Linked DNA regions of Homo sapiens. The protein of the gene in region 1 interacts with the protein of each later gene in a pairwise test. Each region holds a gene or a part of one and is shown on either strand. Other genes may lie near its edges.

Region 1 (16,188 bases):
GAGAAAAAAAAATTTAAAAAAAAAAGAAATAATACTAATTGAGATAATGAGCATTGGTACCAGGTGAGACAACTGGACCACTGAAACAGAATAGACATATTTACTGTAAGTCAGAGATGCCACTGCAGATCAGTAAGGAAAGGCCAACTTTTGATAACTGGTTCTGTCTGGGACAGTGGATATCCATTAAAAGAAACTAATCTTGACCTCCACTTCATACCATACCTCAAGGTGAAAGACAAAACTAAAAAGCTTTGAACATAAACAGAATATCTTCATGACCTTGGGGTTTAGGGAAGGGTTGCTTAAATAAGGCACAAAAAGTACAAACTGTAAAGGAATAGGTTGATAAACATAACCACCTTAAAATTAGGAACTTTTGTTTATCTAAAGACATGATAAAGAAAGTGCAAAGCGGCTGGGCGCGGTGGCTCATGCCTGCAATCCCAGCACTTTGGGAGGCTAAGGTGGGAGGATCACTTGAGCCCAGAAGTTTGAGACCAGCCTGGGCAGCATAGCAAGACCTCATCTCTACAAAAATAAGGTTTTTTAAAAAAAAAAAAACTGTGACGGTTAAACCACCTACTCAAGACTCAGCAATGGTGGATGCCCTACGACACCTAGGTGGCGTAGCCTACTATACCCCTAGGCTCCTTGGTATAGCCTATTGCTCCTAGGCTACAAACCTGTAGAACATGTTATGATCCTGAATACTTTAGGCAACTGTAACACAACGGAAATATTTGTGCATCTTAAGAAATCTAGGATTTGCTGGCAAGATGGCCAAATAGGAAGAGCTCTGGTCTGCAGCTCCCAGTGAGATCGATGCAGAAGGTGGGTGATTTCTGCATTTCCAACTGAGGTACCCGGTTTATCTAATTGGGACTGGATGGGCAATGGGTGCAGCCCACGGAGGGCAAGCCGAAGCAGGGTGGGGCGTCGCATCACCCAGGAAGTGCAAGAGGTTAGGGGATATCCCCCCTAGCCAAGGGAAGCGGTGAGGGACTGTGCCCTGGGAAATGGTGCACTACGGCCCAGATACTGCGCTTTTCCCAAGGTCTTCGCCACCTGTAGACCAGGAGATTCCCTCTGGTGCCTACGCCACCAGGGCCCTGGGTTTCAAGCACAAAACTGGGCGGCCATTTGGGCAGACACCGAGCTAGCTGCAGGAGTTTTCTTTTTTTTTTTTCATACCCCAGTGGTGCGTGGAACGCCAGCAAGATAGAATCGTTCACTCTGCAGGCTGGGCGCGGTGGCTCATGCCTGTAATCCCAGCACTTTAGGAGGCCAAGGTGGGCAGATCACGAGGTCAGAAGTTCGAGACCACCCTGGCCAACATGGTGAAACCCCGTCTCTACTCAAAATACAAAAATTAGCTGGGTATAGCAGTGGGGGCCTGTAATCCCAGCTACTCAGGAGGCTGGGGCAGGAGAATCACTTGAACCCAGGAGGTGGAGCTTGCAGTGAGCTGAGATTGCACCACTGCACTCCAGCCTGGACGACAGGGCGAGACTCCGTCTCAAAAAAAAAACAAAAAAAAAAAAACAGGTTTGTTCAATCCGCTGGAAAGGGGGCTGAAGCCAGGGAGCCAAGTGGTCTGGCTCCATGGGTCCCACCCCCACAGAGCTCAGCAAGCTAAGATCCACTGGCTTGAAATTCTCGCTGCCAGCACAGCAGTCTGAGGTCGACCTGGGATGCTTGAGCTTGGTGGTGGGAGGGGTTGTCCGCCATTGCTGAGGCTTGAGTAGGTGGTTTTACCCTCACAGTGTAAACAAAGCTGCAGGGAAGTTCAAACTGGGTGGAGCCCACCACAGCTCAGCAAGGCTGCTGTGGCCAGACTGCCTCTCTAGATTCCTCTTCTCTGGGCAGGGCATCTCTGAAAAAAAGGCAGCAGCCCCAGTCAGGGACTTACAGATAAAACCCCTGGCCAGCACGGTGGCTCACGCCTGTAATCCCAGCACTTTGGGAGGCCGAGACGAGTGGATCATTTGAGGTCAGGAGTTTGAGACTAGCCTGACTAACATGGTGAAACACCATCTCTACTAAAATACAAAAAAAATGAGCCAGGCGTGGTGGCAGGGGCCTGTAATCCCAGCTACTCGGGAGGCTGAGGCAGGAGAATTGCTTGTACCCAGGAGGTGGAGGTTGCAGTGAGCCGAGATTGTGCCACTGCACTCTAGCCTGGGTGATAGAGTGAGACTCTATCTCAAAAAAAAAAAAAAATCTCCCTGGGACAGAGCACCTGGGGGAAGGGGTGGCTTGGAAACAGCTTCAGCAGACTTAAACGTCCCTGCCTGATGGCTCCGAAGAGAACTCCCAGGACAACATTCGAGCTCTGATAAGGGTCAGACTGCCTCCTCAAGTGGGTCCCTGACCCCTATGTATCCTGACTGGGAGACACCTCCCATAGGGGCCAACAGACACCTCATACAGAAGAGCTCTCGCTGGCATCTGGTGGGTGCCTCTCTGGGACAAAGCTTCTAGAGGAAGGAACAGGCAGCAATCTTTGCTGTTCTGCGGCCTCCAGTGGTGATACCCAGGCAAACAGGGTCTGGAGTGGACCTCCAGCAAACTCCAGAAGACCTGCAGCAGAGGGGCCTGACTGTTAGAAGGAAAACTAACAAATACAAAGGAATAGCATCAACATCAACAAAAAGGACGTCCACTCAGAGACCCCATCTGAAGGTCACCAACATCAGAGACCAAAGGTAGATAAATCCATGAAGATGGGGAGAAACCAGCACAAAAAGGCTGAAAATTCCAAAAACCAGAATGCCTCTTCTCCTCCAAAGGATCACAATTCCTTGCCAGCAAGGGAACAAAACTGGAAACAGAGAATGAGTTTGAAGAATTGACAGAAGTAGACTTCAGAAGGTGGGTAATAACAAACTCCTCCGAGCTAAAGGAGCATGTTCTAACCCAATGCAAGGAAGCTAAGAACCTTGAAAAAAGGTTAGATGAATTGCTGACTAGAATAACCGTTTAGAGAAGAACATAAATGACCTGATGGAGCTGAAAAACACAGCACGAGAACTTCGTGAAGCATACACAAGTATCAATAGCCGAATTATCAAGCAGAAGAAAGGATAACAGAGATTGAAGATCAGCTTAATGAAATAAAGCGAGAAGACAAGATTAGAGAAAAAAGAATGAAAAGAAACAAAGCCTCCAAGAAATATGGGACTATGTGAAAAGACCAAATCTACATTTGGTTGGTGTACCTGAAAGTGACAGGGAGAATGGAACCAAGTTGGAAAACACTCTTCAGGATATTATCTAGGAGAACTTCCCCAACCTAGCAAGACAGGCCAACAATCAAATTCAGGAAATACAGAGAACACCACAAAATCAATGTGCAAAAATCACAAGCATTCCTATACACCAATAACAGACAGAGCCAAATCATGAGTGAACTCCCATTCACAATTGCTACAAAGAGAATAAAATACCTAGGAATACAACTTACAATGGATATGAAGACCTCTTCAAGGAGAACTACAAACCACTGCTCAAGGAAATAAGAGGTCACAAATAAATGGAAAAACAATCCATGCTTATGTATAGGAAGAATCAATATCGTGAAAATGGCCATACTGCCCAAAGTAATTTATAGATTCAATGCTATTCCCATCAAGCTACCATTGACTTCCTTCACAGAACTGGAAAAAACTACTTTAAATTTAATATGGAACAAAAAAGAGCCCCCGTATCCAAGACAATCCTAAGCAAAAAGAACAAAGCTGGAGGCATCACGCTACCTGACTTCAAACTATAGTACAAGGCTACAGTATACAAAACAGCATGATATACCAAAACAGATATATAGACCAATGGAACAGAACAAAGCCCTCAGAAGTAACACCACACATCTACAACCATCTGATCTTTGACAAATCTGACAAAAACAAGCAATGGGGAAAGGATTCCCTGTTTAATAAATGGTGTTGGAAAAACTAGCTAGCTATATGCAGAAAACTGAAACTGGACCCCTTCCTTACACCTTATACAAAAATTAACTCCAGATGGATTAAAGACTTAAACATAAGACCTAAAACCATAAAAACCCTAGAAGAAAACCTAGGCAATACCATTCAGGACATAGGCATGGGCAAAGATTTCATGACTAAAACACCAAAAGCAATGGCAACAAAAGCCAAAATTGGCAAATGGGACCTAATTAAACTAAAGAGCTTCTGCACAGCAAAAGAAACTATCATCAGAGTGAACAGGCAACCTACAGAATGGGAGAAAATTTTTGCAATCTATCCACCTGACAAAGGGCTAATATCCAGAATCTACAAAGAACTTAAACAAATTTACAAGAAAAAAAACAACTCCATCAAAAAGTGAGCAAAGGATATGAACAGACACTTCTCAAAAGAAGACATTTATGTGGCCAAAAAACATATGAAAAACAGCTCATCATCACTGGTCATTAGAGAAATGCAAATCGAAACCACAATGAGATACTATCTCATGCCAGTTAGAATGATGATCATTAAAAAGTCAGGAAACAACAGATGCTGGAGAGGATGTGGAGAAATAGGAATGCTTTTACACTGTTGGTGGGAGAGTAAATTAGTTCAAACATTGTGGAAGACAGTGTGGTGATTCCTCAAGGATCTAGAACCAGAAATACCATTTGACCCAGCAATCCCATTACTGGGTATAAGGATTATAAATCATTCTACTATAAAGAATACATGCAGAGGTATGTTTACTGTGGCACTATTCACAACAGCAAAGACTTAGAACCAACCCAAATGCCCATCAGTGATAGACTGGATAAAGAAAATGTGGCACATATATACCATGGAATACTATGCAGCCATAAAAAAGGATGAGTTCATGTCCTTTGCAGGGACATGGATGAGGCTGAAAACCATCATTCTCAGCAAACTAACACAAAAACAGAAAACCAAACACTGCATGTTATCACTCATAAGTGGGAGGTGAACAATGAGAACACATGGACACAGGGAGGGGAATATCACATACCAGGGCCTGTCAGGGGGTAGGGGGCTAGGGGAGGGATAGCATTAGGAGAAATACCTAATGTAGATGACGGGTTGATGGGTACAGCAAACCACCATGACAAGTGTATACCTGCGTAACAAACCTGCACATTCTGCACATGTACCCCAAACTTAAAGTATAATAAAAATTAAAAAAAGAAATCTAAACACAGAAAAGGTACAGTAAAAATATGGTATAGTCGATTTTAAAAGGTACACCTGTAGAGTGTGTACTTCATGCATGGAGCTTGAAGGACTTGGTGTTGCTCTGAGTGGGTCAGTGAGTGAGTGGTGAGCAAATGTGATGGCCTACGACATTACTGTACACTACTGTAGAATTTATCAATACTGTTCACTTAGGCTGCACTAAGTTTATGCAAAAATATTTTTCTTTCTTCAGTAATAAATTAACCTTAGCTTACTGTAAAAAAAAAAAAAGTGAAAAGTTAATATTTATGTGTTCTGTGTTCAGGAAACCAGGAGGAATGGATTTGGCTGAAACTGGAATACATGGATAGATAAGGCTAGAGAGATAGGCAGGAGCCAAGCCAACAATACTAGGCTCCCATCAATTGCTGGGGCAGGCAAGAGCAGGCATCATCCTGAGTGTTTGGAGCTTCTTTTCATGTTCCCTAAGTTGGGGGGTGTTGGGGGGATGATACAGGGGGAAATTCTGATTAAGACTTAACATCTATTCCTTTGCCTTCTCTTCAAGAAGTCATACTTGATGTCCATCCCTCCTGGACAGGGTCCGTTCTGTTTGCTGCTAAGCTCCTTTCTTATCTCTCCCACCTACTGAACACGTACTGTGTTCTGGGAGTTTTGAATGCATCATCTTGTTTATCCTCATGAGATGGTCTAATAATGAAGAAAGCATGTTTTGGCATCCAACTCACCTGGGTATGAGTCCCAGCTCTGCCTTTTACTAGCTGGATGTCTTTGAGCAGCTCAGTTCCCTGTTCTGTGCTTCTGTGTCCTCATCTGTAAAATGGGAACGACGGCTATTTCTTCAGACTGCCCTCCCTCCCTCCTTTTCTGTCTCCCTCCCTCCCTCCCTTCCTCCCTCCCTCTTTCCCCCTTCTTCTTTTCTTTTCTTTCTCTCTTTCTTTCTTTTCTTCTTTCCTTCTTTCTTTTTTCTTTCTCCTTCTTTCCTTCCTTCCCTCCTCTCTCTCTCTCTTTATTTCTGTCTGCCTGTCTTTCAACAGGGTCTTGCTATATTACCCAGGCTGGTCTCAAACTCCTGGACTCAAGCAATCCTCCCAGCTTGGCCCCCCAAAGTGCTAGGATTACAGGCCTGAGCACCTGGCCTGGACTTTCTTCAGACTTTTCACAGGGTACTAGTGAGAAAAAAATACATGGACTCTGCTTACTTAATACTGTGCCTGGCACATTGTAAGCTCTTCGCACATGTTATTGTTATTATTCCTCATCCTAAGGGGGAAGTGCCTTTGAAGGGTCCACACTCCTTTGTTACCCAAATTGGGCCAGGTTGCTTAAACTGCCGTTCTTCAGTAGCTAACAACAGGGGTGGGAGAGCCTGGTCCTCTGAAGTCCAGCTGGGCACACGGCCAGTCCCTGGCCTGTCCCTGCTCCTGCTGCCCTGGCAAGGCCTCCCTCACCCACTGGGGCTGCACCAGCACTGGCCCCAGCTCAGCTTCCTGTCTCCCTTATCTTCCTCCAGCATGTGCTCTCTGGAGTAGGAAACACCACCGCTTGCTTCCTTCATTTCCCTTTGCTCAACGGGACCCTCATTCTTTAGGTCTCAGTCAAATCCCAGCTGCTGGCCTGGTGCCCACTCTGTGATTTTCTACACCTCAGCCACCCAGGCCAGATGCAGTGTAGGCCATGGCTCCAACAGCAGCATTTCTCTTTTCTTCCCCACCCCCATCCCTGGGTTTAGAATGAGAAAAGGCTCAAGTTGCCCCCCTCCCAACTTCCCTACCCGCAACACTCTTTTTATTTTCTCTGTTCCCAGCTCCATACTTCCATGCTTTTTTTTTTTTTTTTTTTTTTTTTTGAGATGGAGTCTTGTTCTGTTGCCCAGGCTGGAGTGCAGTGGCAGGATCTCGGCTTACTGCAACCTCCACCTCCCGGGTTCAAGTAAGTCTCCCACCTCAACCTCCTGAGTAGCTGGGATTACAGGCACGCCACCATGCCCAGCTAATTTTTGTATTTTTAGTAGAGACGGGGTTTTACCATGTTGCCCAGGCTGGTCTCAAACTCCTGACCTCAGGTGATCCATCCACCTTGGCCTCCCAGAGTGCTGGGATTACAGGCATGCCCAGTCCCATACTTTCTGAGTTCAAATCCTCGCTCTGCACTTCCAAGCTGTGTGACCTTGGGCAAGTTACTTAACTATTTTTCTGGGCTTTGATTTTTTTTTTTTTTTTTTGTACAGAGGAGCAGAGGAGGATTCATCAGGTTGCCCAGGTTGGTCCAAACTCCTGGGCTCAAGGGATCCTTCTGCCTGGGCCTCCCAAAATGCTGGGATTACAGGCATGAGCCACCATGCCCAGTTTTTTTGGTTGTTGTTTGTTTTGTTTTGTTTTGTTTGAGACAGGGTCTCTTTCTGTCACCCAGGCTGGGGTGCAGAGGCACAGACATAGCTCACTGCAGCCTTGACCTTTTGACATCCTGGGCTCAAGCCATACTCCTGCCTCAGCCTCCCAAGTAGATGGGACCACAGGTGTGTACTACCATGCCTGGCTAATTTAAAAAAAATTTTTTTGTAGAGATGGAGTCTCATATGTTGCCATGCTGGTCACTAATTTACAGGCATGAGCCACTACACCCAGGCAGCTTTATTTTATTTATTTTTTTGTCTGTAGCATGGAAACAATGAGCATGGTCTGCCCCAGAGAAAGTGATTAAAGGCCTAGCACATAGTATGAATTTAAAGAATGTTTTATAACATATATATTAAACATTCAAGCATGTTGGAGGTATGTGTTAAAAAAATGTATTGATGGAAAGTGATCAAAATAATTTTTGAGTCACTGTGTGGGAGTTAAATTCACAAACTTTGGCACCAGAGAGAGAGAGAAACTTTCAAATTATAGCTTTTGCTGTGTGACCTTAGGTAAGTCACTTAACCTCTCTGAGCCTCAGTTTCTTAGTAAAATGGTGATGCTAGTGAAACCCATTTCACAGGGCTAGCATAAGAATAAAGTAAGATTATTTAAGTAAAGAGCCGAACACTGTTTCTGGCCTACAATAAGTGTTACCTATAATAATGCTATCATTGTCTCACTGTTCAATTTTCAGGGCTCTAGTATATGAGAGGGGTGCTTGGGAAATAGCTGTTGCTGCTGCTATCTGTCCATGATGGATCTTAACCTGATTAGAAAGGCCTCCATGTGGCTGGGCGTGGGGGCTCGTGCCTGTAATCCCAGCACTTTGGGAGGCCAAGGCAGATGGATCACTTGAGGTCAGGAATTCGAGACCAGCCTGGCCAACATGATGAAACCCTATCTCTACTAAAAATGCAAAAATTAGCCAGGCATGGTGGCACCTGCCTGTAATCCCAGCTACTTGGGAGGCTGAGGCAGGAGAATTGCTTGAATCCAGGAGGTGGAGGTTGCAGTGAGCAGAGATCATACCATTGCACTCCAGTCTGGGCAACAGAGCGAGACTCCATCTCAAAAAAAAAAAAAAAAAAAGAAAGAAAGAAAAGGAAAGAAAGCCCTTGATGTAATGAGCTCTGTGTAAGATAATGTGGATGAAAGTGGACCCAGACCCTACCCGCTTAGATGGAAGGCTCACAGCATTCAATTCCAAATTGGTTCAATCGTACACTCTTTTGCCCTCTCTTATCCATCCCAAAGTACCCTTCAAGCCTTCAAGGGAGAAAAAAGGCAAAGCAAAAATATGCACAACCTCACTAAGAACCAGAAAAATGCAAACTAAAACCAAAGAGAAATGCCATTTTACACCCAACCATCTGATAATGCCAAGGGCTGGCAAGGATGTGAAGCGAGGGAATTCTCATACACTGCTGGGAACGTAAATTGGCACAACCTTTCTGTAAAACAGTTTGGCAATATCTAGTAAAACTGAAGATGCATATACTTTATTACTCAGAAATTCCACTGTCAAGTTTGCACCTACAAAAACTCCCACATATGCACAAGGACTCGAGTATGAGAATGTTCATACCAGCACTGTTTGTAATAGCAAAAAACTGGAAAAAACTTAAGTGTTCAGCAACAAGAGAATGGATACATAAATAATGATCTATTCCCAAAATTGATTTTTTTTTTTGAGACAGGGTCTTGCTCTGTTGCCCAGGCTAGAGTGCAGTGGCATGATCATGGCTCACTGCAGTCTCAACCTCCTGGGCTCAAGCAATCCTCCTACCTCAGCCTCCTGAGTAGCTGAGACCACAGGCACAACCCATCACACCCAGCTAATTTTATTTTTTTTGTAGAGATGGGGGTCTCACTATGTTGCCCAGGCTGGTCTTGAACTCCTGGGCTCAAATGATCCACCCACCTCGGCCTCCCAAAGTGCTGGGATAATACCTCCCCAGCCGGAATATTTTAAAGCAGTGAAAATGAATGGTCTACACATAGCCACATGAATGAATCTTATTAATACATTAAGTGAAAAAAGCAAAAGGTACAGAGGAATACATACATTTTAATACCATTTATATAAAGCTCAAAATATGTGAAATACCACTATCTATTGTTTAGGGATATATACATAAGTAGTGTAAGTATACAGAAATATAAGGAAATGAAAAATATCAAATCTTCATTTTCATCTGAAGTGGTTACTTCAGGGGCTGTGGCAGGGAGAGAGAGATGCAGCTGAGGAAGAGTCCATAGGGGGCTTCAACTATATTAGCAATATTGTATTTCTTATGCTTGGTGGTGGGGATAGGTATGTTTGAAATGTAATCCTTTAAGCATGAAATAACTCTTCAAAAATGAAATATTTCAGGCTGTGCACAGTGGCTCAGGCTTGTAATCCCAGCATGTTGGGAGGCTGAAGTGGGCGGATCACCTGAGGTCAGGAGTTTGAGACCAACCTGGCCAACATGGTGAAATCCCATCTCTACTAAAAATACAAAAATTAGCCAGGTGTGGTGGCAGGTGACTGTAATCCCAGCTACTTGGGAGGCTGAGGCAGGAGAATCGCTTGAATCTGGGAGGTGGAGGTTGCAGTGAGCCGAGATCACGCCACTGCATTACAGCAAGACTCCATCTCAAAAAAAAGAAAAAAAAAAAGAAAAAAGAAATGTTTCATAATTTTTAATAAAAGGCAAGACAATATAAATTGGTAGTTATTTAAGTCATTCTACTTTTCCTGAGGCCCAGTGCAGGAAAACAAAGTTCCTATCCTTGTTCCAACTAGACCATTTTGATAAGCTGCAAAAAGAAAAGACTTTGATGCTATTTCTTAGCCAGTTTGCAACAGCTGAGAGGTGAGCATGGAAGCTCTTGCATATATTCAGTTCAGAGAATGGGTGCTTAGTTTATGTCCAGAGTTTGTCCCAGATTTCACTATGACGTCAGCTCTCCGGGGAGAAGTATATAAAATAAAAAGTTAAAATCCCTCTCAGTCCTTTACCCAATCCTATTCCCCAGAGGTAATCTCTATTGACAGTACCCCTCCAGATATTTTCCCTATGTATATACAAATACACAGATACACACTGAAAGTTAATTTTGGCCAGGTGCAGTGGCTCCTGCCTATACCAGAGGATTGCTTGAGTGCAGGAGTTCAAGACCAGCCTGGGCAACATAGCGAGACCACATCTCTAGTAAAAATAAAAAAAAATAGCTAGGCGTGGTGGCACAGTGGCACGTACCTTTAGTCTCAGCTACTCGGGTGGTTGAGGTGGGAGAATCACTTGAGCCCGGGAGGTCAAGCCTACAATTAGCTGTGATTGCTTCACTGCACTATAGCCTGGGCAACAGAGCTAGACCCTGTCTCAAAAAAATAATAATAAATTTTATATATATATATGAGGATGAAATTACATATGTATTATTTGAACAGAAGTGAAATCTTTTCTTTTTTTTTTTCAGACAGAATCTTGCCGCATGACCCAGGCTAGAATGCAGTGGTGTGATCTCGGCCCTCTGCAACCTCCACCTCCCAGGTTCAAGCGATTCTCATGCCTCGGTCTCCCAAGTAGCTGGGATTACAGGCATGCACCACCATGCCCAGCTAATTTTTGTATTTTTCGTAGAGACGTTCGCCATATTGGCCAGGCTGGTCTCAAACTCCTGGCCTCAAGTGATCTGCCCACCTCGGCCTCCCAAAGTGCCAGCAGCATGCTCGGAGGAGTGACTTTAAAGCTTTTCTACTTGCTTCCTAGAGTAAGGGACGCATTTTACACTGCTATCCAAAACTCATCATAGAAACATACACACACAAAACCAAAGCACACATATACAACTGAGCAAATATTTCATGACATAACACTTTCTCTTACTAAGGGTGACGCGCTGAAATTTTGTATTCTGTCCTATTTCATTTTTTAAAAATGGTAACCATGACCTGCTAAATTGATTTCATTGTCCACTAATAAATTATGACCTCAGTTTCAAAAAGATTGCTTTAGGTAACCAATCATCTTCTGAGATTTATACAGATTGCTCATAATTCTCTCCTATTTTTTAAAAACATGCTGCAGTGAACTGCTTTACACTCATTTTATGACTACTTCTGAGACCAAGATCCCGGATTATGTAATTGTTATTTACTTAAAATTCTGGTAAAATGTAGCCATTATACTGGAAAACTAAATTTTAATCTTGGATCTGTCACCACCATGATATATAAACTTTGGGCAAGTCCCTGCACCTCTCTGGACCTCAATCTCCCCATCAGCAACCTGCTGATCCTACTCCCAGGAGTGTGCTCTAAGTTGAAAGTAGATGCCCCACCCCCTGAGTCAGCGCCGGCAGGACTTCTCACCAAGCCCTTCTCCCCCTTTTCCGCTCCCTGTTCCTGGTTCCTAGGAAGCAGCCCAAGGAGAAGGGAAAAGGCAGGTCTGGGCAGGAGGGAGCAATGAAGGGCGGGGCAGAGGGAGGGCAGGAGGGAGGCCGGCCCCCTAGTAGGAAATGAGACACAGTAGAAATAACACTTTATAAGCCTCTTCCTCCTCCCATCTCCTGGCCTCCTTCCATCCTCCTCTGCCCAGACTCCGCCCCTCCCAGACGGTCCTCACTTCTCTTTTCCCTAGACTGCAGCCAGCGGAGCCCGCAGCCGGCCCGAGCCAGGAACCCAGGTCCGGAGCCTCAACTTCAGGATGTTGACAACATTGCTGCCGATACTGCTGCTGTCTGGCTGGGCCTTTTGTAGCCAAGACGCCTCAGATGGTGAGTCGGGGGCACATCTCCTGCCTCAGGATGGTTCTGGAGAATCTCAGTCTATCTGGGCACATGGCAAGACCACAGGAGAGCTTATCTCACAGCATCTGTGTCTGCAGCTGGCTAGATCTCTCTACAGGGCAGGCAGAGTCTTGGGGACTGGTTCGTGTCCCAAAGCCAAGGTGAGTTAGTACATTTAAGCCCCTGAAAAGGGGGAGATGAAAGAGGCTAGGGGAAACAGGATGACTGGAAACATGAGAAAGAAACCAGCAGAGAGGGTAGGAGAATCAGCCCCAGGGAGAGGGGAGAAAGGGGAACTGAGGGTGATGGTAGATAGGGGTACATCTAGGGGAGACGGGAAGAGGCTCAGAAGAGAAGAGAAATGGAGGGAATGGGAAGACCCTGGGAAAACTGATGGAAGAAGTGGGGGAAGAGTGGGGCAGAGAGAGGTTAGGGGAGGCTAGGGAAAATGGAAGGAGACTGGTCGCAGCTGGTGGAACTGGGGAGAAAGAGATGCTGTGCCTAATAGAACTTATGGGCGATCAGGCTACTGAAGTGGCCCTGTTTAAGCAGAAAAGGGAGTTATTACCCTCCATTATAATTGCACAGGGGCCTCCTTTCCCCTCTCTCACAATCCCCGTAACTTCAGTCTCCCCCTCAGAGAGGCAGCAAATAATAACCAGTATTCAATGAGTGCTCACTATGGTTAATACATGTATTGACCCATTTAACTTGCACAAACCCCTAAAGGTGGGTAATATTATTACTATCTCCATTTTATGAGGAGGAAACTGGGTCACAGAGTAGTTAAGGACCATGTCTAGGGTTATCCATAAATATACTTATTCACATCTGCAGATACAAAGCACAACTTCTCAAATGCAAACACAGACAGGACCCACTCACACACACAGATTTACAACCCCGGACTCATCCAAATGTGCTCTGGGCATCAACTCTGTGCCAGCCTCTTTTCTGGGTGTAGGAAGCAGAGATTACCAAGCATGGTTCCATAGCCTAGAGGAGTCCAGTGTGGCCTGTGTGTGTTTGGAGACAGCCAGGTAGTATCCCGTGAGATACACACTAATATATGGTGGTCTGGGATCACTGAAACAGACACACTGTGTCTCGTGGGGCATCAGAAAAAAATTTCCAAGAAGAGGGCAACTGAGCTGGGTCTTTTTTTCTTTGCTTTTCTTTCTTTTTTCTTTTTTTTTTTTTTTTTTTTTTTTGAGATGGAGTCTTGTGCTGTCACCCAGGCTGGAATGCAGTGGCACAATTTCAGCTAACTGTAACCTCCAACTCCCAGGTTCAGGCGATTCTCCTGCCTCAGCCTCCTGAGTAGCTGGGACTACAGGCATGTACCACCACGCCTGGCTAATATTTGTATTTTTAGTACAGATGGGGTTTCGCCATGTTGGCCAGGCTGGTCTTGAATCCCTGACCTCAAGTGATCCGCCCGCCTCGGCCTCCCAAAGTACTGGGATTACAGGCATGAGCCACCGCGCCCAGTCTCTGAGCTGGGTCTTAAATCATGAATAAACTTCGCCAGGCAGAAAAAGGGAGGCAGAGCAATCCTGACATGCTATTCATGTGTCAGCCAAAGGCAGCATGAGGAATCCCAACTAGTTTGATATATAAGCAGCGGGAAGCGGCCAGAAAAGGCAGCAGGGGCCAGGTCTCTAGCAGCCTTGAATGCCAGGCTAAAGACTCTGGACTTGATCCTGTGGGGAGGCAGTGTAGCAGAATGGCTGAGTGCTGGACTTGACTGCCTACGTGCAAACCTTGGCTCTGCTACACTATCTCTGTCTCAGTTTCCCATGTAGACTGGGGTTAATAATAGTAGCTATTGCATTAAGCCACTGGGGAAAGGCACAAAGATAATAATGTATGTAAAGCCCATTGCCCAGGTTATAATAAGCACTGAATCGACATTGGCTATGATTATTTTTGATTAATGAAGGGGAGGGGGTTATGGCACTGGAAGATTTTAAGTAGGAAAAGGACATGATCTCATCCCTGGGTCAGGTGGAGGTCGGAATAGAGAACGGGGAGATGAAGTAGAAAGTTACTACCCCAGTCTAGATGAGACGGATGAATCCTGAATCAGGGCAGTGGAAGAGGAGATGGAGAACAGGCGATGGAATTGGAATTTTATTCAGGTCAGGATTTGTTAACCATTTGTTCCGTTGGTTAACAGGAAACGGGGGGAGGGAGAGCCGAGGGTGAAAAAGGAGGCAGAAAGGAGTGTCTCTTCCACTGCAGGCCTCAGTTTCCTCATCTGTAAAACGGAGATAATAATCCCTGTCCTGTCCTCCTGGCAGAGTTACTGTCAGCGTCAAACGGGAGAAGCGGTGGGAGGGCACATTATAGTTTATGAAGGGTCGAGAAGGCGGGCGGCCAGCCTCGAGGTAGGGGGTTATTATCTTCCGCTGCCCGCCGCCCCCTCCCACGCCGGCCCAGGCTGAAGCTGACTCTGCCCGCAGGCCTCCAAAGACTTCATATGCTCCAGATCTCCTACTTCCGCGACCCCTATCACGTGTGGTACCAGGGCAACGCGTCGCTGGGGGGACACCTAACGCACGTGCTGGAAGGCCCAGACACCAACACCACGATCATTCAGCTGCAGCCCTTGCAGGAGCCCGAGAGCTGGGCGCGCACGCAGAGTGGCCTGCAGTCCTACCTGCTCCAGTTCCACGGCCTCGTGCGCCTGGTGCACCAGGAGCGGACCTTGGCCTGTGAGTAGGCGCGCAGCGGGGGCGGGGTCTGGGCGGGGCTAGTGGGGGCGGGGCCTGGCGGGTGGGGGCGGGGCCTGGCGGATGGAGGCGGGCTGGGACTTGCAGGGACCCGGCAGCCACTGGAGCTCGGTGGCGCCTGGGCCTTTGAAGATTGCTGGGTGGGGGCTGGAGAGAGGCAGTTGTCCCCGCTAAGAAAGCCCCGACTCGGGCGGTCGTCCTGCTGGCATAACCTCTTGGGATAGACCCTGTTGGAAGGCCCTGACACCGTGACGTCGAAGGTCCCCAGAAAACTCCTCACCCCTCGCCTCACAGTCCTCCAACTCCTTTTCTTCATAGATCTCCGTCCTTCCCTTCCCACAGCCCCCAGCACTTCACCCCCCACCCTCCAGCCACTTCTCATACAAGCTGATGACTTCGCTCTTAGCTCCACTCATGACCCGAACTCTTCCCCCAAAGACCCCAAGTTCTTCTCTCAAAGCCCCACTCCTTCCCCGTCACAACCCTAACTCCTTCTTCTCAAAGACCCCAATTTCTTTTCTCAAAGCACCAAGCACCACTCCGTCCCCCTTCCCCCACCATCATGGCCTTTAACTCCTTTCTCTCCTAGTCCCCCACCCCACCCCCCTTTTTTTTTTTTTTTTTTTTTTTTGAGACGGAGTCTTGCTCTGTCGTCCAGGCTGGAGTGCAGTGGCGCGATCTCGGCTCACTGCAACTTCCGCCTCCCGGGTTCAAGCGATTCTCCTGCCTCAGCCTCCCAAGCAGCTGGGACTACAGGCACCCGCCACCACGCCCGGCTAATTTTTTGTATTTTTAGTAGAGACGGGGTTTCGCCATGTTGGCCAGGCTGGTCTCGAACTCCTGACCTCAGGCGATCCACAAGCCTGGCCTCCCAAAGTGCTGGGATTACAGGCGTGAGCTGCCGCCCCTGCCCCAGCCTCACCCCCTGTTTTTTTTTTCTATTACAGTTGAACAAGGCCTGACAATTCCCTTTTTTCATCACAGTCCCTGGCCCCTTCTTTCTTAGCCTCTAACAGGCTAACCCCAAACCCCTCCTCACAGCCCCAGGCCCTTCTCCCCATAGTTCCCTGACCTAGACTCCCCTCTCCTCAC
Region 2 (15,280 bases), on another chromosome or scaffold:
ACAGATGTGCACCACCACACCCAGCTAAGTTTTTTATTTTTAGTAGAGATGGGGTTTACCTATGTTGCCCAGGCTGGTCTCGAACTCCTGGCCTCGTGATCCGCCTGGCTTGGCCTCCCAAAGTGTTGGTATTACAGGTGTGAGCTACTGCACCCTGCTGCCAATGATTTTATCTACTGATATTTTCCATATTAGACATTAAAATGGAGAACTTTTGAAAATATCTATTTCAGCTAAAAATGACAATAAGCCCATTACATGTTAAAATAAATACTATATTTTTCAAAATTTTTTCCCAAAACAATAATTTAAGGAGGAGAGTTGCATTGTTTTACATTTTTGCAATCTCTTTAATGACTGGTGTAATAGGAGACAGTCAGATTTTCGTCTCTGCTTCTGCATTCAATCTGTTGCACTTTCACATGTTGTGTAGCTTCTGGAAAACTCATCTGTCCACTTATGAGAGAAACAGACCAAAAAAGGCAAATAATATCTTGGTATTTGAAGAGAGTTTGACCTTGCAGATCTCCTGAGAGTCTCAGGAACTCTGAGAATAATTGCATTAGAGAATTTCTCCTCTCTTCTCACATTGCAGCTCACTTAACCACACCTCCTTCACAAAACACAATTAGGTTTATCCTGTGGTCAATTACTCTTCACACACATTTGGTCTAGTAGTTTCAAAAGGCATAGCCACATAACAGGCTAATTATGCCAGGAAATTACCATTGGTGAACTGTTTTTCCCCTTAATTTTCACGACAGCACCTGGCTGAAGATAAGCTGCTAATGGATGGTCCAGGCCCCAGAAACTTAAATAGCTTGGTCATCAATGCTGCTTAACCTTTTCCACTTGCTTCTGTAGCTCAACTTCCTCAAAGACATGCCAACGGCAAACAGTTTTTAAAATTTCTTAAATTCAGAAGTATAACCTAAAATTTTCCAAGTGTATATTCAATAGCCAAGCATTCCATTTCCTTAAAAATGCTATTTTTAGCTTGGTGGAAAAAACATTTTTTTTTTTTGGATACATGGTCTCACTCTGTTGCCCAGGCTGGACTGCAGTGGTGCAATCATGGCTCGCTGCAGCCTCAACCTCTTGGGCTCAGACGATCCTCCCACCTCAGCCTCCTGAGTAGCTGGGACCACAGGCATGCCATCGTGCCAGGTTAATTATTTATTTATTTTTTAATTGAGATGGCGTCTCACTATGTTGCTCAGGCTGGTCTCAACCTCCTGGTCTGAAATGATCCTCTGGCCTCAGTCTCCCAAAGTGTTGGCATTATAGGCGTGAGCCACCATGCCTGGACAAAAAAAATTTTTGTGTTAGCAAAATTTAAGGTTTTTTGAACTCAATCTATTCCTTGAAACACACGTGAAAAGTCCAGGCCTTAGAAACTTAAAAAGCTTGTGTGTTAACTTATAAAAATTCTGTATGTTAACAAAATCCTTGTTTAGTTGAAATAATTTTTTCATTGACTATGACTCTAGAAATAATTTATCAAAAATTTTTTTATTTTCAACCTTGAGAAGTACTAGTCATTTTGCTTTAAATTTCCCCTCCTCCCTTCTGCCTGAGGGAGTGCTAGACAGCAAAGGACTGTCATTCAGCCAGAGAAGACAGCACAGCCATTTTACGGATTTCCTTTCTGCTCTGACATTTAATTTCTCTCTCACTAGGGAAGAACTGCAGACACTACCCATGATGTCTATAACTCAGAAATTTGAATATATTCTCAATAAGCTTAAATTTTCTTAAGAAGGGATTGAGAGAGAGAGAGAGAGCTAATCACTCAATGTCTTTGGCAGAAATGGTGCTGTTTGTTTTATTTTTTCCTTGCATTTGTTCTTCCAGATCCCTTCTCCACGGCAAAGGAAGCTGATCTTTATGGACTACTTCACTCTGGGTATTGGGTTAAGATTAGGATCAAGGGGAGGCCTCCCAAGAGATCAGAGGGTGAGGGAGAGGCGTCAGTGTGTTCCCTCCTGTACCTGGGCCTTGGCAGTAATGGCTTCCCCTGATTGCTAGTCTCTGGGGGGTGCTTCACCAGTCCCCGTTGGTTCCCTTAACCCTGTCTACACCTTTGTAAATCACCTCTTCATTAAATGCTCTTCAGTTAAACCCTTAAAGTGTGCCAGGACCAGAAAGATATAATACTAATTTGTTCCAAAGAGATACCAAGCAAATGTTCACATTTATTAATACAGGTTATGTTTTTAAGAATGAACATAAAAACAGTGACATACTATTTTGTAAGTACATTAATGATATCATATTTTAATATATACAGACTAATAAACAATGACAGTAAATCTTCACTGATTTAGATAAAATGAATAGTCACTAAATTAATAAAACCAGTGCTAGCTTCTACTTACAATACAGTTATATTACTTTTATGTAAGTTATTCTATGGTATTTGGAAATAGTTTGCTCTTTTATTTTTTTATTTTTTATTTATTTTTATTTTTTGAGATGGAGTCTTGCTCTGTTGCCCAGGCTGGAGCACAGTGGCGCGATCTCGGCTCACTACAAGGTCCGCCTCCTGGGTTCACGCCAGTCTCCTGCCTCAGCCTCCCGAGTAGCTGGGACTACAGGTGCCTGCCACCACGCCCGGCTAATTTTTTTTGCATTTTTAGTAGAGACGGGTTTCACCGTGTTAGCCAGGATGGTCTCGATCTCCTGACCTCGTGATCCACCCGCCTCAGCCTCCCAAAGTGCTGGGATTACAGGCGTGAGCCACCGCGCCTGGCCTGCTCTTTTAAATAAACATTTGCCTTGCAACTTTCTATTTTGTTTAAAATGCTACCATTTTTTCGTAAGATAAGAGATATGTTTCAACCTAATTTCCAAATTACTTTGTGAATTCCATGAAGATTTTCTATACTTGATACTTAGGAGGTTAAAAAATGCTTTTAAAGTCTCATTAAGTCTTAAGTAAATGGAAATTATAGAATAATTTTCCTAGATTTCAATGTCAATTCTATTTTCTTCTGTTATTTCTAAGCAGACTGACATGATTGATTCTTAAAAGAAAACCTGATTTGAGCAATCTATTGAGCAAAACATTTGTAAATAAATAGTGCCCAATTAAATCAGACTTATTTTAAAAAATATATGTCCTGTACTGCATTGTTTTCATTAAGTTATAACCACAAGAAATAGTAACCCAAATGTTCAAACTTCTTTAGCTGACAGGCCTTGTTTGTGTGAAACATATTTATTACACATACATCACACTCTATGCATGATCTACTTTGCTCTTGAGGGCAGGTCTCTGTCTTATTCCACTCTGTACACTCAGCACCTATTGGAGTGGCCACAGCGCATAATGGGTGCTTCCATATCAGAACTGACATTTCAGAACAACTACTAGATGTGTTTACACCCAGTGGATGGGCATCCAGAAGTCCATGCCTTCTTTCGTTGTTTTTAAGATGGGTAGAGAAGTCTTTCATGGTCATTACCTCCTAGGATATCACATTCTGCTTTGCCAGTTTCTCATAAACATGATCAGTTCACAGCCAATCCCAGGAGGATGGAGCAAATGTAGTGGCCCCAGTCTCACTGCTGTGAGGCTCAGCAGGAAGGTTTCTGGCCAATCTGTGTCTGACATGGCCCTGGCATGTGTCTGCTGCCTGGAGTCCTCCATCGGGGGCGGACACATGCAGCTCTCAGGAATAGCCTACTCTGAAAGCCAGCCTACATTCACTAGAGGACTTATGCTCAGTTTTGGCTTATGTGTACAGTGTGTAAAATGTAAAAAATACTACCCATATCAAAACAGAGGCTTTTCATCTGTTTCCATAATTTTAGGAATTCAAACTTGGATATGTTTAAAATTGAAAACACTAGAACTTCTACGCACAGATAGTACTAAGTCTTACCTCTTAATAACTTAAACCTTGCCGTCAAACAATTTCAAAATACACTTATTTGCAAAAGTGGTACAAGCCCAAACTATGGAGTCTCTCACTGTTGATGAACACCATGAAATGTTCAGGGCTAAACTCTACCAACCTAGACTTTGCATATTAAATCAGGGAATCAGAGATTATTTTCATAATTGCTGGGGTGCGGGGAAAGAGTGTTTTAAAGTGCCTATTCTATACTGCACTGCAAATAATATATGTGTGTGCATACATCTACATATACACACATGTAAGTATGTATATGTCACCTAGCTATATCCAGAAGTGACATTCATTTATTACTGTAGCATTGGCAATATTCCCTTGGAATAACACCGTCATCTCGTCCTGTTATCTTTCTGGTAATTGACAAAAATACATGCTTGACAGCTCCCATAAAAAGCAGGTATGCAAGTCGTACATCTGTTGTTTTAGGAGGTGAATCAATAAAGTTTGGGTGGGGACTAATAGAATCCTCAGGTTATTCACTTTTATAAACTTTTCTTTTTAACCTCCCAGCAGTCCCTTTTCCTAAGTTAACAGCTTTTTGTATATGCTGTTATTCAGGTTACTAGAGCAGGTATCCATTTTACTTGCCATCAACTGCCCACTGCTGTTATAACTGCTGGGATCGGAACTTTCTTTGCAGCATAAGATACTGTAGACGTACCTCTGGCACTCAGAGGAAGCGTAATAGTAAATTAGGGGGTCGATGCAGCAGCTTATGCTGCTGACACAGACACAGAGGAGGTAGGCAAAGTAGGCAGCCTCTGTGGTGGAAGTGTGAGAAAGGAATGAGTAATGCGCAATCAGGAGGACGTTTGTGGGTCCGAAGCAAATGATGAAGATGCAGAAAACAGCAGCTGACAGGAACAAAGCCCGGGACTTCTTGCTGCGGTTGGCAACTGCGGAAGAGCTAAGACATCGAATGATAGACACATAACAGACCGTGGAAATGATCAGCGGCACAAAAAAGAAGACAGCAGAGAAGGCTGAGAAGTAGTAGGCATAGTAGCCTTCGAGCAGGGTTTCATTGAGCACATCATGACAGGTAGTGATGTTGAGCCCGGGCACCTGGATGGTTTGCTCCTTGAGGAGCAGAGGCACTACCCCTGCGATGGCCAAAGCCCAGATGGCCAGACAAGTGAAGGAAGCCCTTCCCAGAGTACGCCAGGAGAGGGACTGCATGGGATACACCACAGCCAGAAACCGGTCAATGCTTATGACTGTCATGAGCAAGATAGAGGCGTACATGTTACAGTAAAATGCTGCAGTGACGAAGCGACACAATTCAGACCCAAACTGCCAATCACTGCCGGAAAAGTAATAGCTGATCTTAAAGGGGAGCACAGACACAAACAGCACATCTGCCGTGGCCAGGTGCAGCATGTACACCACCGCCGGCTTCTTGACCTTCATTTTCAGGATGAACACAACGATGGCCATGATGTTTAGTGGGAGGCTGACTACAAACACTCCGGTGTACACAGATGGGACAAAGAGTGTCAGCCAGGAGCTGGTCAAATATCCGGAGGCATCTTCTGAGATGAATGCAGGAAGTTGTTTTTGAAGAGGACTGCTTTTATTGATGGAGACTAATCTGTATTCAGTTAACCCACTTTCATTTTTCTCCTCATCCTCCCAAAATGGTTCATATTTATCATTGGGGTTCCTGAGAAGAAATGACCGGGGATCTAAGGTGGCATTTGTTGCTTTTGATTCTGAAAAATAAAATTAAAAAAATTTTAAATGTAAAAAGTGAACGCATCAACAAGGCAAAAGCGACAAGCAGAGAGCATATTTTACTTTTGTTTATGTTTTCTTACTAGGAGAGTGGGTGGTAAAGAGCAGATAATGCACAAATAGACTTTATTAGAGAATAAGCCAACTCAAAATACTGTGAAACATTTGTCTTGATATAAGCAATACTTCCTAAACTCTGCCCCTCAAAGGGACAAAGGTGAATGATAGGTTTTCAGAGATCTACCCTGAAGACATTAGGAAAGGCTGAGTACTTGACATAAAGGGATCAATCATTGATTTCCACGCTAGCCACTGTCTATATAAACAAATCACTCCCAGCTTCCATGACTTCTCTTTCCTCCGCATACCTTCATGTGCACACTTTCTCCATTTAGTCTGCAGTCATCCCATGAAACCTGTCCCTTTTCAATGGAAAAATCCACATAGAAAGTTGAGGGGATTTAGGCTGGGCACAGTGGGTCACGTCTGTAATCCCAGCACTTTGGGAGTCCGAGGTGGGTGGATCACAAGGTCAGGAGTTCAAGACTAGCCTGGCCAAGATGGTGAAACCCCATCTCTACTAAAAACACAAAAATTAGCCAGGTGCGGTGGCATGCACCTGTAATCCCAGCTACTTGGGAGCCTGAGGCAGAAGAATCGCTTGAACCTGGGCAGCAGAGGTTGCAGTGAGCCAAGATCACACCACTGCACTCCAACCTGGGCGACAGAGTGAGACTCCGTCTCAAAAAATAAAAATAAATAGAAATTAAAAAAAAAAAAAAAGTAGAGGGGATTTCTTTTTCTTTCTTTTTTTTTCTGAGACACAGTCTCACTCTGTTGCCCAGGCTGGAGCACAGTGGCGCGATCTCGGCTCACCGCAACCTCCGCCTCCGGGGTTCAAGGAATTCTCCTGCCTCAGCCTCGTGAGTAGCTGGGATTACAGGCACGTGCCACCAGAGGGGATTTCTTAAAGGTTTTGGAGTTAGAGGCAAATTAATAATGGGATTCAGGACTCCCAATTCTACGGCCAATGTCCATGACAGTAGTTTTCCTCTACAGTCTTTAGTTTGCTTACACAGGAGAATGTAGAAATCTCTCACTATATCTGGGTCCAAACCACAATCCCTGGGGTTATCTCCTAACATAGTCACAAGGTACCCATCATCTCAGTCATTCTTCTACTTCTTTCCTGAGCAGGTCAGCAGAGCAGCCGATGTTCTTGGCCACTCATGCCAGACCAACCAAGGTTTTTGGAGTATCAACCAAAAATAGGTGAACACATGGAGGTTCCTGGAAGGTAGTGCCCAAGAGAGGGCATGGAAACTCTGTGCTCCTTCCCACAATCGCTGCCCTATGCATCTCTACCATGTGGCTGTTCATCTGTATCCTCTGTAATTTTCTTTATAACGAATGGATAAAAGTAAGTAAAGTGGTTCCCTGAGTTCTGTGAATCATGCTAGCAAATTAATCGAATCTGAGCAGGGGGCCTTAGGAACTCCCAATGTATAGTGTGGTCAGAAGTCTGGAGGCCCAGACTTATGACTGCCATTTGAAGTGGAAGGCAGCGTTGTGAAACTGAGCCCTTAATCTGTGGAATCTGACTCTATCTCCAGGTAGATAGATAGTGTCAGAATTGAGTTATATTAGAGGTAGATAGTGTCCAGAATTGAATTATATTCAAGGATACCCAGCTGGTGTCCACTGGAGAATCTGCAGGAGAATTGGTTGCTTGGTATGTGGAGAAACAAGCTCCAGACATACGGTGTCAGAAGGATTGAGTGAAGTGCTGGGTAAGAGAAAACAGTTTGGGGAAAATAGTTTGGTTTTTCCTATATAACAGCAGTGCCTATATAACATAAAAGGTGACTAAAACCCAGATAGAAAATCCGTAGTCTTTTTGGCCTACAGAACCAGAGGACAGAGTTCAGGGCAATCACAGTCACTGGAAAGTTAGGAGAGAATCCTGGAAAGGAAAAAGTCAGAGAGGGGGAGCCCTAAATTTCAGTATAACTTCTGTCCTAGGGTTTGGCTGACCCTTGAACTATGCATTTGTAGGAAAGATGAGAAGCACCTCTGCTAAAGATAAAAGAACTGAAGTGATATTTAAGCTTCTGCTCAAGAGAGAAAGAGTCTGCTGCTTGAGTAAAACCAAATTAATTGGCTGCTAAAGCAAAAACACCAACACTCTTTGAAGGAATATAACAAAATCCAGAGTCTTTTTTCCTGTAATTTATACAAGAAAATGGTTTATTGGACTTACAGTTCCACATGGCTGGGGAGGCCTCATAATCATAGCAGAAGGTAAGGAGGAGCAAGTCACATCTTACTTGGATGGCAGCGGGCAAAGAGAGAGCTTGTGCAGGGAAACTCCTGTTTTTAAAACCATCTGATCTTGAGAGACCCATTTTACTATCATGACAACAACACAGGAAAGACCCGTCTCCATGATTCAATCATCTCCTACTGGGTCCCTCCTACAACACATGGGAATTATGGGAGCTACAAGTTGAGATTTGGGTGGGGACATAGAGCCAAATCGTTATCACCAGATCCAACCAATATACACAAAAGTGATAAACTCTGGACGTCTTGTCCCCCTTCTCTCACACTATATACAACAACCAACTTAAATGGATTAATGGTTTACACATAAGACCTGAAACTGTAAAACTACTAGCAGAAAACATAGAGGAAAAGCTTCATGACATTGTCTGGGCAGTAATTTTTTATAATGACCATAAAAGCACAGGCAATAAAAGGAGAAGTAGACAACTGGGACTGTATCAAAGTAAAAAGCTTCTGCACAGCAAAGGAAACAATCAACAGTGAAGAGAAAATTTATGAAATGAAAGCAAATATTTGCAAACCATACGTCTGATAAAGGGTTAATATCCAAAATATATAAGGAACTCCTATAACTCAACAGCAAGATAACAAATCACCTGATTTAAAAATGGACAAAGGATCTGAATAGACATTTTTCAAAAGAAGACATACAAATGGCCAACAAGTATATGAAAAAATGCTCAACATCACTAATCAGGGAAATGAACATTAAAACCACAATGAGTTATCACTTCATACCTGTTAGAATGGATATTATCAAAAAGATGACAGATAACAAGTGTTGGTGAGGATACGGGGAAAGGAAGCCCATCTATACTGATGGTGGGAATTTAAATTGGCATAGCCATTACGAAAAACAGTATGAAGGTTCCTCTAAAACTAAAAATAGAACTATTATATAATACAGCAATTCCACTGCTGGGCATACATCCAAAGGAAATAAAATTAGGATGCTGGCTGGGCACGGTGGCTCACGCCTGTAATCCCAGCACTTTGGGAGGCCAAGGTGGGTGGATCACCTGAGGTCAGGAGTTTGAGACCAGCCTGGCCAACATGGCAAAACCCTGTCTCTACTAAAATTACAAAAATTAGCCAGGCTTGGTAGCGCATACCTATAATCCCAGCTCCTCGGGAGGCTGAGGCAGGAGAATTGCTTGAACGCAGGAGGCGGAGGTTGCAGTGAGCTGAGATTGCGCCATTGCACTCCAGCCTGGCCGACAGAGCGAGACCCCATCTCAAAAAAAAAAAAAAAAAAAAAAAGACCAGGATGTCAATAGCTGCAATCTCATGTTCATTGCAGAATTATTTATAATAGCCCAGTTATGGAATCAAACTAGGTATCCACTGATGAATGAATGAATGAATAAAAAATATGATGTATATACACAGTGGAATACTATTCAGCCTTAAAAAAGAAGGAAATTCTGTCATTTGCAACAACATGGATGAGCCGAGAGGGCATAATGTTAAGTGAAATATGGCAGGCACCGAAAGACAAATATAGCATGATTTCACTTATATGTGGAATCGAAAACAGTTGAACTCATGGAAGCAGAGAAGAGAATGGTGGTTAGTAGAGGCTGGGGTTGGATGGGTGGGTAGGGTAGACTGGGGAGACATTGGTCAAAGGGTACAAAATTTCTGTTAAAAGGAATTAGTTAGAAAAATCTCTTGTATAATACGGTGACTATAGTTAATAACAATGTGTTGTATACTTGACAATTGCTAAGAGAGTAGACTTTAAGTGGTCTCACCACAAAAAATGATAAGTATTTGAGGTAATACATGTTATAAGTTTGATTTAGCCATCTCACAAGTTATGCATATTTCAAAACATTATGTTATACACTATAAATATATATAATTTTTTGTCAAATAAAAGAAAAAGGGGGCTGCCAGGTGTGGTGGCTCACACCTGTAATCTCAACACTTTGGGAAGCCCAGGTGGGAGGACAAGTTGAGCCTGGGAGATCGAGGCTACAGTGAGGTATCATCACACCATTGTACTCCAGCCTGGGCAACAGAGTGAGACTCTGTCTCTAAAAAAAAAAAAAAAAAAGTGACCCAGTCTTAAGTAAAAAGACAGTGAGCGGAAACCAACCTCAAGTTGACCCAGATGTTGGAATTAGCAGATAAGGATTTTGAAGAATGTATTACAACCATGTGCAAAAAAAAAAAAAAAGAAAAATATTTTATAGAAATGAACTGAAAATAGGAAATATCAGCAAAGAACTACCAAGTGGAAATTCTAGAAATAGAAAATAAAATACAATATGTTGGCATCTATTTCCAAAATGAAGAGCAAAGCTAGAGTAGTACCAACTCAGAGACAGCAGAGCAGAGCCTGGTAGTGTAGGGTTGAGGTCAAGCTACCTAAGCAAAGTTGGGAGAGGGTCTCCAGACAATGAAGGGGTGGCCTGGCAGGAGATCTGTCACAGGGAAGGAATGAATGTCTCCAGTGATGAATGTGAATACACACTTGTGTCTACATTGATCCTTAAGGGTAAGAACTGTTCCTGTTAATCTCTGAACCTCCAGTACCCTGTGCCCTGCATGTGGTAGGCACATATTTGTATTCTAATATTGACTCTGTTCAGGGATCACTTAACTTCTCTGAATTAAGCTCAGAATCATTAAAATGGAATTCTAATTCCTGTCTGGCCTACAAATCTGGCAACTGGAGCATCCCGTGTGAAACAGGACATACATTCACTTTGGAAACCATAACGATTAAGCAGTTTAAGAAATTACTATTATCCTTCCTCTCCCACTTCCATGTAGTGTGCTTTTATACCCAATTGTTTGCTCACTTAATTAAGTTAAAAGGAAATCTAGGTTCATCTTCCCTCCTACTTAGCAATGTTTATAGTTTTTTAGTACAATGAGGGAATGAACAAGTTGTATATTATATAGCTCTAGGGTTCAGAGCTATAAATCAAATTTTGAATTCACAATCTTTTCTGGAAGTATCACTCTCTTACCTTTGCAATGCATGTAACTTACTCTGTGTTCACCTTGCCCCAGTCACACAGAAGCCTGACCTTGGTACCAACAGACCCTGTGGATGTGAGGCTGTTCTCAAGATCACAATGAGTGTGTGGGTGCTGAAAGAAAAGAATGAATGGCTTCTGGCACTTAAACATTTTTTTTTATTTTTAATTTTTTTTGTTTGTGGTTCTGGCACTTTAATATCACAAAAACATGCATATGCAAAAATGCTGATCTAGAGGAACCAATTTTTTTTTGAGATGGAGTCTTGCTCTGTCACCCAAGCTGGAGAGCAGTGGTGCGATTTTGGCTCACTGCAACCTCTGCCTCCCCAGTTCAAGCAATCCTCCTGCCTCAGCCTCCCAAGTAGCTGGGATTACAAGCACGCACCGCCATGCCCAGCTAATTTTTTTTTTTTTTTGAGACAGAGTCTCGCTCTTTCGCCCAGGCCGGACTGCAGTGGCGCTATCTCTATCTCGGCTCACTGCTAACTCCACCTCCCGGGTTCACGCCATTCTCTTGCCTCAGCCTCCCTAGTAGCTGGGACTACAGGTGCCTGCCACCGCGCCCGGCTAATTTTTTGTATTTTTAGAAGAAATGGGGTTTCACCGTGTTAGCCAGGATGGTCTCTATCTTCTGACCTCGTGATCCACCCACCTCGGCCTCCCAAAGTGCTAGGATTACAGGTGTGAGCCACCGCGCCCGGCTGCCCAGCTAATTTTTGTATTTTTAGTAGAGATGGGGTTTCACCATGCTTGCCAGCTAGTCTCATGCTCCTGGCCTCAAGTGATCCACCCACCTCAGCCTCCCAAAGTGCTGGGATTACAGGCATAAGCCACTGCACCTGGCCAAGGAACCTTAAAATAATGCAATTCTCCTCTGCAGTTTTGGAAGCCTGGCCAGATTATGGGCTTTTGTGATGCACAGAGGGGAAAAAGTGGACATGAACATGCATACTTACATACATGAATCAAGATGACACCTGAGAGACTGACACAATGTGAAAACTAATAAATACAACTAAGCTCTTCAGATACTATCACTTAGTCTGAAAATAAAACTGTCACTAGACTTTACTCTGTATTTAGTACTTAGGCAGTAAGTACTTGTTTTAAAAAACATCTTCTCTGGGTAGGCCTCAGGCAGACGGTACTTCCGACAGGAACATTATACTTGTGGAAACATGAAATTTTTATAGGCTAGAGCTCAGGAAGAATGTATAATCCCTTGGTTAAATATCGCTGCCTAAGGTGTTACCTTTTCTTGATACTATGGGTTTGATATTCTGGTTTTTGTGAAATTAAAGAATGTCGGAAAAAAAAAGAAAAGAAAAAATGTAGTATATACCAGCATCAAAGAAAGGACAAAACCAATGCAAGGTGACTAGACAATTCCAACTAGCTCAAGACCCTTAGGCTGAAATTTGAGTTTAAGTATCTCGCTTTTCCTCCAGTCCTAGCACAACTCAGGTCAAGGAGAAAGTGCTTGTGAAGGTGCCCAAATCTCTTATCATTCATCTCTGTTTTTTTTTTTGGTTAAGCTATGGTTTCACAAAAAAGGCAGCAGAGGTCCTGAATTCAGTTCTCATACGATTTGCTAAGTTTCACTTAATTTAGGCTCTTCTAAATTGCTCTAGAGTAGTTTTGTTATCGAATACAGCAAATTATTAAATAGTTTAAATACGGACTCTTTAACTGTGGCGATTTTTAAAAATTAGTGAGTTAGGCAACACGTTTTCTGACTGTGATGAGATCTGTCCTGGAAGCAGAGGGGTGACTAGAGGATCTCTGAATGTCGCATTTGATCCTGGGATTTATACCACACCAGCATTCCATGACACACATGGTTTTGACTCACAGTTCTGCCCTTCGGGGCTCATGCTTTTTCAGAGTTAACAAAGCAGAAGTCCCAGGACTTTGCTCACATTCCCACACAGAGCACAAGAGTTGAAACAACACTACAGGCTAAAGAGAAATGAAGAGGAGGACAGGAAAATAACAGAATCACACTAACTCTGTCAAGTGGAAAACACCAGCATTACTGGAATGTTTTACTCCCTCAGATTCAAACAAACACCATTTTCCAATGAAAAGAACTGGGGCTTCTTAAAGAAATGACTAGTTCCAGATCTGGGGTAGGAAATACACAAGATGAACATTGAACATCTTCAAAGAATATCAGGGTTAGGTCAAAAAGACGCTGGAGTCAATCTCAAAGGGCTCCCACTGACCAAAGATGTGACATGTTGATCACCAATTTGACCATCAAAAGAATAATGATGGAAATGAATTGAAACATTTCATACATGTTAAGATCCATGAGTTGAAGACGCAGTCAGCCAGATCCAGTATGTAGAAAAGACAGATGGCTTAGTTTCTTTGACAAATAAGAACTAAGACAGATGGCTTAGTTTCTTTGACAAATAAATAGCAATAAAAAAGGGGTGGGGGGGCAGTTACAGATTAAAATGTAATGGTGGACCTTGTTTGAACCTGATTCAAACAAACCAACTGTTAAAAGGTATTTATGAGACAATAAGGTAAATATGAACACTGACTGATTATCAGATGATATTAAGGAATTGTTAGGCCGGGCACGGTGGCTCACGCCTGTAATGCCAGCACTTCGGGAAGCCGAGGCAGGAGGACTGATTGAACCCAGGAGTTCCAGACCAGCCTGGGCAATGCAGCAAAATCCTATGTCTATTAAAATAAATACAAAAATTAGCTGGTCGTGGTGGTGTGTGCCTGTAGTCCCAGCTACTTTGGAGTCTGAGGCAGGAGGATTGCTTGAGCCCAGGAGGTTGAGACTGTGGATGAGCCATGATTGTGCTACTGAACTCCAGCCTTAGCAACAGAGTAAGAATGTGTCTCAAAACAAACAAACAAACAAAAAAACAGAAGGAAATGTTCATTTTTTAGGTATTATAATTGTATTGTGGTTATGTGGAAAAAAGAGTTCTAATCTCTAAGGATGCTTACTGATGTTTTTATGAATGACATAATATGATATCTGGGATTTGCTTTAAAATTATACAGTTGGGAGAGGAGGAAACTTGAGGGTTTAGATAAAACAAGATTGGTGACATGTAAATAATGTTGAAGCTGGATGATGGGTATGGGGAGTAACTATACTGTTCATTTTTGGGTATGTTTGAAAAATCCCATAATAAAAGTTAAAAAAACAAACAAATACTGTATGCATGTTTATTTGCCACTAGAAGTTAAGGGCAAGGGTTTTTGCTTTTTTCTTTTGTCCTAGTTCTGAAGGGGAAAATGTTCTTGCATGCTTGTGTGAAGATTGTCTTATATTTAGATAATTTATTTGGTATCAACTCTTCAAAAGCTTTTCTGGAATATGGAAGCATTGGTGTATGAAAAAACCTTACCATCTTTTTGAGCACCTACTATGTGCCAGATACTTCACTTGCCTTAGTTCATATAATTCTAACATTTCTATGACATGAGCATTATAACTACCATTTTATAAATGACAACATGGAGGCACAGAGAGGCTAAGTAACTAATCCAAAGTCACACAGCTATGAAGTAGAGGAGCCAGGGTTTGAACCTAGGTCTGCCCAGCTCCAAAGGTCATACCTTTTGACCACTCCACGCTATTCTCTCCTTAAAAACTTGTGATTCATGACCTACTTCTAAAAGAGTACCATCTTTTTCTCTTTGCATGTCACCAAACAAATGAATCTGCCCATCCTTTTAGCTACAGTAGGCAGTATGTGGACATGTGAATGGCTAGCTTAACGTGATGATGCCCAAAGCTTGGGAATTCTGGAGTCCTACTGACTTTGGCTGCACACCAACCACACATGCCAACAACTTGGTCCTTACACACAGGAGAGAGATAGCAGGGAGATATTCAAGGACAAAACAGAAAAATACATCTTTAAAACACTGTTCTAGATGGAGCAGATGCAAGAGCAGTAAGTGAACAAAAATCTCTGCTACAGAAAAAGCAGAATTAAAGACAAAATTCTTTTTTTTTTTTTTGATACAGAGTCTCACTCTGTCTCCCAGGCTGGAGTGCAGTGGCACGATCTTGGCTTGCTGCAACCTCTGCCTCCTGGGTTCAAGAGATTCTCCTGCCTCAGCCTCCTGAGTAGCTGGGATGACAGTTGTGCACCACCATGCCCGGCTAATTTTTGTATTTTTAGTAGAGACAGGGTTTCACCATGTTGGCCAAGCTGGTCTCCAACTCCTGACCTTAAGTGATCTGCGCCTCAGCCTCCCAAAGTGCTGGGATTACAGGCATGAGCCACCGTGCCCAACCTAAAG

Evidence for each region.
Region 2: the proteins of PROCR (region 1) and F2R interact in binary tests that used the Homo sapiens proteins (3 or more experiments, as listed by UniProt).

Annotation. Positions count from the first base shown.
Region 1 is NC_000020.11:35,159,876-35,176,063, forward strand, and holds the start of PROCR (endothelial protein C receptor precursor), read left to right. Parts: upstream 1-12,196; 5' UTR 12,197-12,213; coding exon of another isoform or gene 12,214-12,279; coding exon 12,280-12,349; intron 12,350-14,826; coding exon 14,827-15,078; intron 15,079-16,188. UniProt on the Homo sapiens protein: Binds activated protein C. Enhances protein C activation by the thrombin-thrombomodulin complex; plays a role in the protein C pathway controlling blood coagulation.
Region 2 is NC_000005.10:76,722,666-76,737,945, reverse strand, and holds the end of F2R (proteinase-activated receptor 1 isoform 1 precursor), read right to left. Parts: intron 9,235-15,280; exon of another isoform or gene 9,113-9,234; intron 5,633-9,112; coding exon 4,443-5,632; 3' UTR 2,176-4,442; downstream 1-2,175. UniProt on the Homo sapiens protein: High affinity receptor that binds the activated thrombin, leading to calcium release from intracellular stores.